2 separate regions of the Homo sapiens genome follow, and region 1 is linked to region 2. The links come from fine-mapping of genetic effects on gene expression. A gene starts in region 2. The other region holds a variant in brackets. All regions are shown on one strand. Distances are between the middles of the regions. Region 1 overlaps LOC105370082 (a long non-coding RNA gene). Region 2 holds the start of LINC01257 (long intergenic non-protein coding RNA 1257).

Region 1 (5,369 bases), 69 kb before region 2:
TGAGGGAAATGTTGCATTTTGATATTTACCAATAAACAAGCTTTCATGGGGCTGACACAGCAACAAGGCTCAGGATTATACACGCAGGCAGTTTATGAGTGCCTCTTCCCATTCAGAATCCTCAAAAGTGTGTAATTCAAATTCAGTGACTTAACGGATGGTGAATAAATATAGACCTGGAACTCAGCGCCCAGTGGAAGCCTGCTAAGAACTGGAGAGATGCAAATGAAATTGTTTTGCTTTTCATCACCCGTTGTGACTTCTTTTTTTGTTTGTTTGTTTGTTTTAGACAGAGTCTCACTCTGTCACCCAGGCTGGAGTACAGTGGCCTGATCTTGGCTCACTGCAACCTCCACCTCCCGGGCTCAAGCGATTCTCCGGCCTCAGCCTCCTGAGTAGCTGGGATTTACAGGCATGTGCCACTGCGCCCGGCTAATTTTTGTATTTTTAGTAGAGACAGGGTTTCATCATGTTTCCCAGGCTGGTCTTGAACTCCTGACCTCAGGTGATCCATCCACCTCAACCTCCCAAAGTGCTGGGATTACAGGCGTGAGCCACCGTGCCCGGCCTCCTGTTGTGACTTCTGACATATGGTATCCTACACCTGACATGCTTGGCGAGGATTACTTCCTGAGGAAAACAGGTCTTCCATTTGGGTGTGAGCCCGGGGACACTTCAGGACCCTGTGACCCCTCAGCCTCCCAAGAGAGGAACTGAGCTTGGGGGCTGGGGGTGTCAGCAAAAACAAACATGCTGTTCTCGTGGGAAGCTTTGGTGGACCAAGCACAATCATCAGACCCATCTCCAGAACCATCCTTGAGGCTCATGTCTTCTTGCTGCTTTTCCACTGGAATTCAAACTTTTAAAGCACAGGAATAAATTGTGGACAGAGAATTCCTTTTTTATAAGTACTGAGAGCATAACAAGGCACATCTTCCGGAGATGTAACAGTGCGTAGCCGCAGCAGCTCTATGGGCAGAGAGCCCTCAGACCCTGCAGCAAAGGACACTGTGCTCTGCCTGGATTCCTCAGCACCTGGGTGAGCTGCCCGCCCTTGGTCTCCCCCCATAGTGGGCCTTACACCAGTGCCCATCCCTCTCCAGGCACAGACCTTGTGGGAGGGACGCCCGGACATCCCAGCTAGCATCGGTGTCGGGGACAGTCCTGGTGGTCCTCAGTGAGGAGCCCAGAGGGGCAGAAGGTCATGAGAGAGAAAGAGAAGAGCAGCAGGATGGGGTGGCGGATATGGGGTGCTGGGGACCGGGTGAATTCTCAGATCATCCACTGACACAGCCATGCATCACAGGGCCATGGATGCCTCCGTCCATGCTGCCATTTCCACTGGCCTTTCCCACAGGGGAGCCCGGGGGCCCGTGTGACCGTGAGAGGGGGTTGTGTCTGGTGGGTTGAGCTCAGAGCACGCTGGGGAAGCTGCACCCTCGTCTTCTTTCACCTGCAGCCAGGACATTTTCTGAGGCCTCTGAGGCTGCTGGCCAGGCCAGGGAGGTTTCTGCAGAGCAGGGCAGAGAGCGCCTGGCTCCGGTGAGAAAGGGGCTGTCAGGCCAGGCGCAGTGGCTTACACCTGTAATCCCAGCACTTTGGGAAGCCAAGACAGGTGGATCACCTGAGGTTGGGAGTTCCCGACCAGCCTGACCAACATGGAGAAACCCCCATCTCTACTAAAAATACAAAATTAGCCGGGTGTGGTGGTGTATGCCTATAATCCCAGCTACTCTGGAGGCTGAGGGAGAAGAATCGCTTGAACCTGGGAGGCAAAAGTTGCAGTGAGTCGAGATCACGCCATTGCACCCCAGCCTAGGCAACAAGAGTGAAAGTCCATCTCAAAAAAAAAAAAAAAAAAGAAAACACAAAAAGAAAGGAGCTGTCAGGCAGGTGGCCAGGCCAGGGAGGTTTCTGCAGAGCAGGGCAGAGAGCCCCTGGCTCGGGTGAGAAAGGGGCTGTCAGGCAGGTGGCCAGGCCAGGGAGGTTTCTGCAGAGCAGGGCAGAGAGCCCCTGGCTCGGGTGAGAAAGGGGCTGTCAGGCAGGTGGCCAGCAGCCCTGAGCCTGGAGATGGGGATTCAGGAGCCCACCTGCTGCTCGGCTCAGAGCTGAGAGGAGAAACAGCCCAGAGGAACAGCGGCCTCCCCCATCCCAGCTCACGCAGAAATGCATTGGAATGTCAGGAAATTGTGTGTATTTGATGTATTTTACCTGTTGCCTAGAGAGCCCACACAGTGACGCAGGTGCCTGTTTACATTGGCTGATTGCCCGGACTTTGGAAATGCAATTATCCCCCACCACCCCCTCAGCCACTTTCTCCAGCGGACTAGGAGGGGCTGAGTGGTGCAGCCTCTGTGAAATGCTTGGCCCAGGAGAAAGCAATTCCAACGGGGCTGTGACAGCTGAGGGGGAAGGTGTGGCTGCGCAGAGCCCATCAGGGCTTGTTACTGGAAGGAGAGGGAACAAATGCCAGGCAGGCAAAATGACCCAGGACCGGCGACCACAGGCCCCTGTGGCTTCAGCAAATGCAGCTGCTTCCATTTGGCTGCAGACAGAAGCTGGATGCACGTCTGTGACCAGAAATGGACCTGCCCCTTGGTGTCCATGACAACAGCCCCTCAAAAGCAGTTCTGAACTAATCCTACCTGGCCCAGGTGTGGCTGCGGTGAGACGTGCATGGCATGCGGGTGCCCCACGCTGGGACAATCCCTTTGTTGAATCACAGAAGATGAATTAAGACAACATGCTTGGAGGTGCCCTGGGGACACAGAGGAATTAAGGATGAAAATCGCCAAAGCCAGGCTGGAGAAATTAATTTCAGTTGTGAGCACACGGTCCAGGAGGACTTATTAAAGCTGAATGGAAATTAAATCCTGACATTCCAGGAGGGCACTAAAGCACCTAATGAGAAAGAGGGGACACACACAGCCAGGCAGCACTAACATGAGCTGCAGGTAACCAGGTGCAGGGCGGTGTGGCCTGGGTCCTAGACCGGTGGACAGCCATGCCGGACAACTTCTCCTGGCTGACTAAAGTCCCAGCCATGCCCA[A/G]TCTGTACCACCTGTCCTGACTCACGTCTCACCGCTTAACAAACCACCCAAAAAATGCTGTCACTTCAAACAAAATCAGTAATCCATCATTTCTCACAATTCTGTGGTCAGGATCTTGGGCAGGGCCCAGCTGGGTGGCTCTTCTGCTGTGGCGTTGCCTGGGTTCACTTCCTCAGTTGCATCCTGCTGGTGGCTCGGCTGAGCTGGAAGATTCTGGAAGGATTTTACATGCCTGCCAACATTGTTTTCAGGATGATTAAAAATAGCCTGTCTAATCCATCATCAAGGCCTCAACAGTTACCATGGAGACCACTTTATTACCAAGAGGAGAATTCAGGGGAAGCATCTGTCAAATGAGCGAAGGCTGTCAGGCGTTGACTTCTCCTCCATCTGAGAGATGGCTCTGATCCTCAGGGCTGGGCTGTCTTTTCATGAAGTGGGAGCGGCCACACCTTGGTGATGGATCAGGATCACCCTGCGCCTGAACCTGAGGCTTTAATTAAACTTCTCAAATCTCCACCCTGTGCCACCCTCTGCCCTTCACTCTCCTTGGGCTCAGCTGGAAGGAAGCAAGATTTGAGACACTGAAAAATACAGTGTTTGATTTGCTAATTCCCAAGAAAAGGGAGTTGAGAGAAATTTATGTTCAGGGCTTTAGGAAGCCTGGGTGTTGGCTCCGTCCTAATGCCTGAAACTCACTGCACCCCTGAGGGAGCAGCAGGTTTCCTCCTGCGAATGACTGCGATCTCTCAACTAAACTCCACCCAGGAAACCTGTGTTCACGTGAGGCAGGCGAGAGAATAATGGCTCAGAGACCCAGCAGAAGCCCCTGCTGACCTTGGGGTGTCCTCTAGCACCTGACAGAGGACACACCTGGAGGACCACGTGGCACTGCCGGCCCAGACTTAAAACATGGAATTAATCCCCAATAGGTAAAAAGTGGGAGATTTCCATGAATTCACCAGTTCACACATCATTTATTGCACCCTAGCTGAGCTGGGCACTGCTGTGGGTGCTGGGGATAGACGCTCGGGGAACAGAGACCCTGCCTGCGTGCAGACCCCCTTCGTGGGCCCACGTGCAAGCCGGATCCCTGAACGGATCCAACAGCCTGGGCAGCTGGCACGGGGCTCTCCTTGCTGCAGCATCTGTGGGTGAAGCCGCTGCTCCCTTTCCTGTGGGGACTCTCCGCGCCACAGTCCCCACCACGCCCTATCACTGCCACGCTGGGGCTGATGCCACTTACTGTTTGTCACCACATTGGGTGACGCTTCCTCAGAATGGACCAACAGGGAAAGGGAAGAGCTTTTGTTTTGTTTTGTTTTGTTTTTAATGCTTACCAAAAATAGGAAAACAGAAGACAGACCATGGGGACTGAGTGTTTCCAGAACCCCTGGACGAACATTTCCATACGGTTGTGGAAAATTCGCGGTTGAAAGTCCAAACTCCAAGAGCGGGTTGGCCTGGGCTCTCCCTCAGCCTCATCCTGGCTGGAGGATCAAGCAGCTTCCTGTGTCTCGGACCCTCAGGTTCCTCGTCTGTGAAGTGGGGATGAGAACAGCACCTGCCACTTCTGGCTCTTTTTTAAAACCAATTTTAATAGAGATGGGGCCTCACTATGTTGCCCAGGCTGGTCTCAAACTCCTGGGCTCAAGCAATCCACCCATCTCGGCCTCCCAAAGTGCTGGGATTACAGGGGTGAGCCACCGCATCCGGCCCCTTTTCTGGCTCTTACGAGGGTTGAGTGAGCCTGTACACCTGAAGAATATAGATTGTTAAGTTTCTGCCTCATCATTATCATTTTAACATGCAAATAAAATCCCATCCTGGCCCCCGGTGGTGTTTGATTTTTCAACCCCTGTGAGTGGGCATCAGACTCAGAGCTTTGGGCAGACGAGGCCTTAGCTAGTTGTGAATAACATCATTTTGTCTTCATTTCACGTTCAAGCCACCTTCTGCTTATGGTAAGTGAGAATGATTTTCTGCTTATGGTGGTGAAATATGTTTCCTCTTTAGAGGAATTTAGTGAAGTGAAAGTGAGATGATTTAAAGAAAAACGTGGAATAAGTAATGTGTATGGAACATGGAAGGTGGGAAGTGAAGACTGGAGTTTGAGGAGCCAAGAACGAGTCCAATTTCCTCATTTTATGAGTGAGGAAACTGAGGCCTGGAGAAGGGACAGGACTCACCCAGGGCCACAGAGTGAGGCTAAGGCAGAGGCAAGACCGGAATCCAGGTTGCTGTCCCCAGACTCAAAGTGTGTGGCTGGTCACTGCTGATGGCTCACCCACCAGGGACAGGAGGAGGAGGAGGTGAGGA
Region 2 (5,369 bases):
AGAGTGAATGTCAGGGAAGTGTGGAAGGGGGGCCAGGTTCCCAGGGCCATTCAGCCTGCTCCTTGTCATGGACATAGACTTATACCTAGGCTCAACATCATCATAAGAATTCAATGTGGGCTTTTCCCAGGAAGTCATCACCGCCACAGGCCACAGACAACGTTCTAAGATCTATGCCAGAGCTGGTACAGCTGGTGATCAGAAAAGCTGAGAGAAATTGCCCAACTACTCTATAAATAATGGTGTGTGATTCAGACTTGCCAGTGATAGAAAAAAAGAAATGACCCCCTCCCTGAGAACCTTTCAAAAATACCAGAAGATCATAGCAAGCAAAGAGCAGTTTCTTAACAAAATCAATCTTTCAATGTATCATTTCACAGTTAGGACACAAAAAGCACAAACACAACATTCTCAATAGAAAATAAAAACACTTCAGCAGATCACACACTTTCCAATGTGTTTCTTTGCCCCAGCATTTCTAGGAAGTCGTTCTGCTGATCCTCTGCCAAGTCTGCTAAGCAAATGGCAGCGTCAGCACTCTGCTAAGTGGGTAATTCGCTCTCAGGATTCCAGTTCATGGTGGTGGTTATTTGGGGCTGACTCACCCTGTTCTACCTTTCAGGATACTGGTGAGCACTGCCAGCGTTCTCTCCTGGGCAGCTGGACGCATCCTTCTCAGCACATTTGTTTCTATTCTCCATCCTAAGGTCAGCTCTCCCCACCCAATACCTTGCACATACACCCCTGGCCTCAAGTGGAGCTGCCTTCCAGTCTCTGCAAGCTGAAGGGCAGCTTTCCTTTACTTCCAGAACCATAACCACCTATCTTAGATTCCCACTACGGCCCCAACAAATCACCACAAACTTAGTGGCTTAGACAACACAAATATTTTCTTGCAGTTCTGTAAGTCAGAAGTCTGACGTGGACCTCACTGGACTAACATCAAGGTATCCACAGGCTGTGTTCCTTTTTGGAGACCCTAGGGGAGGATAATTTGCTGACACATTCAGGTTGTTGGCAGAATTCATTTCCTTGTAGTTGTAAGACTGAGACCCCTGTTTTCTCTCTGCCTATCGGCTCAGCCTTCCCAACTTCTAGGGGCCATGTGCATGCCTTGGCAGCTTTCTCTACCTTCCAAGCCAGCAACAGGGTGAGGCTCTCTCAAGCTTTGAATTTCTCCTCCTTCTGACTCATCTCTCTGACCCAGCTGGGAAAGTTATCCTATCTTAGGGACTCACATGATGACACTGGGCTCACCTGGACAACCCAGGATGCTCTCCCTATCTCAAGGCCAATACCTTTAGTCACATCTGCAAAGCCCTTTTTCCCATGTGAAGTAACATATTTATACATCCCACAGATTTAAGTATGGACATACTGGGGGGGCGTGATTCTGCTAACCACACCATCTCTGTTCTCCCCACTATTTCCACACACAGATGCTGTCCTGTGATATGTTGAACTGCTTGTCTGTCCATCTCATGTAACATGAAAGTCAAACTTTCTCAAGGTCAAAAACAGTATCACCATTTCCAAAGATCCATTCAGTGAATATGAGTTGATGCAAAGTTGGAATCTTCAGAACACCCTCGGGCACATGGCTACAGGAGAAATGGAGCGGGTGGGCTGGATGAGCTGGTGAGAGCATGCCCCCAGGAGGGAATGTCCACTGCTCAGCCATGGCTGCCATTTGAGAATGGGGCCTGAGGTAATCAGAGTCCTGACTGTTCAGGAAAATCAGAAACCTGGATTACAAACAAAACCTCTCAATTTTAAGCATCAGCCACTAATTCAAATGTTAACACTGATCATGTTAAGTAAACACCTGAGGATCTTGCCCAGCACGTGGTCCTCCAGCGTGACGTCTCTGCCCTGGGAGATTTCTTATTTACCAGGAGCCCAGTGCCTCCTTCACAGGCCTGCAGATTAAATCTGATCTTGGTGACCATCATTTTACCCCCTCCCTCAGAGGATCCGATCCTGGGGCAGAAGGCTTTCCCCTGCCTCCTCTCCAGCTTCACCTGCTGCCCTACCTTCCTCCATCTCCCATTTCCCCCACTTCCAGCAGTTCCCTTTCACCCCACTGTGTGCACTCTTTAAGCCTTGGCCCTGCTGGTTTCCACCCCTGGAATGTCCTCTCCCATTGCCAGCCTGGTGAATCTGCCTTCATGGAGAGCCCCCTCCTCTGTGAAGCCTTCCTCCATTTCTCCAGGGGACTCTGGGCATCTTCCTCTAAGCCAGTATCTTCCCCATAATGGGCTGCCACCGTGCATGATAGATGTTCATGGATTCAACCAAATGTTTACTTACCACCTACTATGTACTAACAGCCTCTCAATCCTGAAAACATGGCAGTGAGCAAGACACACATGGGCTCAGCCCTCATCAAGACAGTGATGCCAGCTATGAAGGGAACCAAATTGGGTGAAACGGTGGAGAGTAGGGTAGGCTTGAAAAAGGAGGTCCCAGAGGGGGTTTCTGGAGAGGTAACTCTCCCACTAGAATGATGGGAAAGAGTTGACACCCAACTGGCTGTGGGAAGAGCTTTCCAAGCAGAAGGAAAAGCAAGTGCAAAGGTCCTGAAGTAAAGAAAAAGGAAGATAATCACAGAGGCAGAGCAGGTTGGGGGTGGAGAAAGTCAAGCATATGACGCTGAGGAAATGAAGACAGAGGAGCGTGTAGGGCTTCACAGACCAAAGTGAGGGGGTTAACTGCTGATGTGGATTCTCCCCACAACCCCCACCTGCTGGGGGACTCATGAGTGCTGAAAGAGAGCACGCCCAAATCACTTGAAGGGTGGACCGCAGGGCTGTGGGGTTTGGGCCCTTTCTCCACCGTGGGACAGACTTACAGCACAGGCGAGTGCTCCCTGCATCTGGACACAGCTGTGGGGCTGTGGTCGCCCCATCTTAGGCCTTGTTTCTAGGAGACGTTCCCACCAGAGAGTGTCTCTCTTCATCTTCCCCAGGTGATTCAGGAGCTCCGGGTGTCATTAGGTTGCATTGCTCATTCCCAGATCGAGCGGAAATCCCAGCCTGGCGTCTCCCACCAGCGCTCACATGCGTATCTACAGCTCATACCTTGGGACGTCTGGGCGTGACGTCAGCTTCCGAGTTCACGAATCAGACAATTAGATTAAAAATTCAAATTCCACTTGGAACTCCCAGACCTCCGAAGCTCGGCGTGTTCTGCACTCAGTGGCCACAGAGCCCGGGTCCTGGCGCGGATGCGCTGGGGCTGAACTCCTACTCCTGACAGCGCCGTCCAGAGAGGTGCGGCCCGCGGCGGGGCTGGGGGAGCTGGGGACCCGCGGGCCCAGAGGAGGCGCAGGACGAGGGGGGCCGAGCCCCACCAGGACCGTCCCGGAGGCCTGAACGCAGTGTCTGGTGAGCCTGAGGAGGTCAAGACCCGGGCCGCGTCCCCGTCTCCTCGTCCCCAGTTCCCAGTGTGGGGCCTCAGGGCACAGACTCCACAGCTGCTGAGGGCCTCGCCCCCTCCTTCCGGGACCTCCCGAGTTTCACTCAGGAGCCCCCACACCCACAGCTAAGACGCTGGGACCGCTACAAGGACTCTTGGTCTATGAAGGGGCCTGTGGCCCAGGTGTGGTTGGAAGCCCCTTACCCTGGCTCTGTGATTGGTGCAGGGCTGGTCACGTGGCCCGAGCAAGTCCAATCGGAGTGAGCATCAGGATTTGTTCCCTGGCCAATGGGAAAGGTTGTTACACTTCCACAGGCTGTGCTCTGGCTTTGTGATTGGTGCAGAGCTGGCTACATGGCCGGAGCAAGTCCAATCAGAGTGTCAGGTGGCTGTGCCCTGGGCCTATGATTGGTACAGACCTGGTCACATGACTCTGCCAGTCCAATCAGAGTGCATGCCAGGACCTGCCCCAGGGCTGGCGGGAGAGCTACGGAGCTGAGAGGAAGCCAGGAAGCAGCTGCAGCCATCTTACTCCTTTGTAGGGGGAGCCTGCCAGGTAGAGGTCCCTGATTGGGGCATTAGCAGGGCCAAAGCCGCTGAAGGCCCAGATATGAGACAGAAAAAAAGATCACTGGAGCCCTGGATCCAGTCGAGCCTGCAGCCAGGTCTGTGCTGCAGCGTTTCCAGGGCCAGGTCCCCTCCCCGCTTTTATTTCCTTGAGCTCATTTGAGCGTTTCTTGGCTTTTGGGCTTCCTAGCCCAAGGAGTCCTCATCCACACAGAGCCGGATCAGAATCCGGAACCCCAGAACCTGGATCACTCCCCTTCCTTGCTGCGCGGTCCTGACCTGGGCCCGTGGCCTCAATTTCCCTGCTGTGAAAACCCGGAGGGCGCGGGCGTTGGGATCGCGAGGGGCCTCAAGGCAGCATGGGGGGGGGGCACCGGGCAGACCCCGCCTGGACGCCAGCCCCGAGCCCTCAGAGCCCGCTGTCCCCGCGTCTGCCCGTGCGGGACAGAGAAACAGGGTCAGGCCGGAGAAGGGCCGCGCCAGCCGGGCAGGAGTCCACAGAGGGGCCGCAGCACTTGCCACCCGGGCAGCAGCGGGGCTCCCCGAGCCAGGCCTCTGGACGACCCCTGGTCGGAGGGGGAGTGGCTCGGGCTCGCTTCCGAGGGTCCTGGCCAGCGGAAGGAGGGGCTCAGGGACGGGCGGGGAGATGCCGTCGCGGTCCCGGTCCTGGTCCCGGTCCCGGTGAGGACAGCGGCCGGCTCTTCCCGTGACCCGGAGGGCCCTGTCGGAAGCAGCTGGAGGACCCGGAGTTCCCCAGAGTTTCCTACCAGCCTTCGTCTCTACCCGCCCCTCGCGCCGCAGTAGAGGGAAGGGTGCGTTCCGCTGGCGGCAGCATATGAGTATCCATGAGCCCCCGTGCCTGGGTGACACTGGCAGTGTCCACATGTAGCACATAGGTAATAATCATGTCAGCAGCCTGCGTGTGTGACACCTATAAGTACAGGTGCAGGTGGCACAAACATGGGTGATGCAGATACACCCAGGCAGCGCCACACACAGCACCATGCAGGTCATACAAGGAAGGAATCCGCAGACTCCTCCCACGAGCAGCGGACAGACGGGAGCATGCGGGAATGGTTTAATACACAGAGCAGCAGGCCCAGGTAATAGGAGGTGGCACACACAGGTTGTTTACAGGCAAACGCACAGAAGTAGCCTGCAGCAGAACGCACACACACGACATATCAGGTAAAATACAAGACTCACGTGGCAACACAAATGACCACCAGCAAACAGATGACAGGCACAAGTGACACAAGATGCTGACACACTTAGGTAACATGAAGGCACCATGGACACAGGAAATACAGACAGTGCATGCCAGCAGCCTGCACGGTCATAACAACACACGCGAGCAGCCTGCACGGTTATAATAACACACGTGA

Evidence for each region. PIP is the estimated chance that this variant, and not a neighbour inherited with it, causes the effect.
Region 1: its variant is fine-mapped to the expression of LINC01257 in thyroid (GTEx, PIP above 0.99).

What each region holds. Positions count from the first base shown.
Region 1 is chr12:131,231,928-131,237,296 of GRCh38, reverse strand. LOC105370082 (a long non-coding RNA gene) reads left to right here. Exons shown (of 4, transcript XR_945559.3): 4 at 1-5,369. Among named protein-coding and RNA genes, the nearest start is that of LINC02415, 63 kb to the left of the region's middle. RefSeq lists an enhancer at 1,987-2,596. The variant A/G (reference allele first, on the strand shown) is at 3,051.
Region 2 is chr12:131,162,713-131,168,081 of GRCh38, reverse strand. LINC01257 (long intergenic non-protein coding RNA 1257) reads right to left here and starts at 3,071. Exons shown (of 5, transcript NR_026670.2): 1 at 2,852-3,071.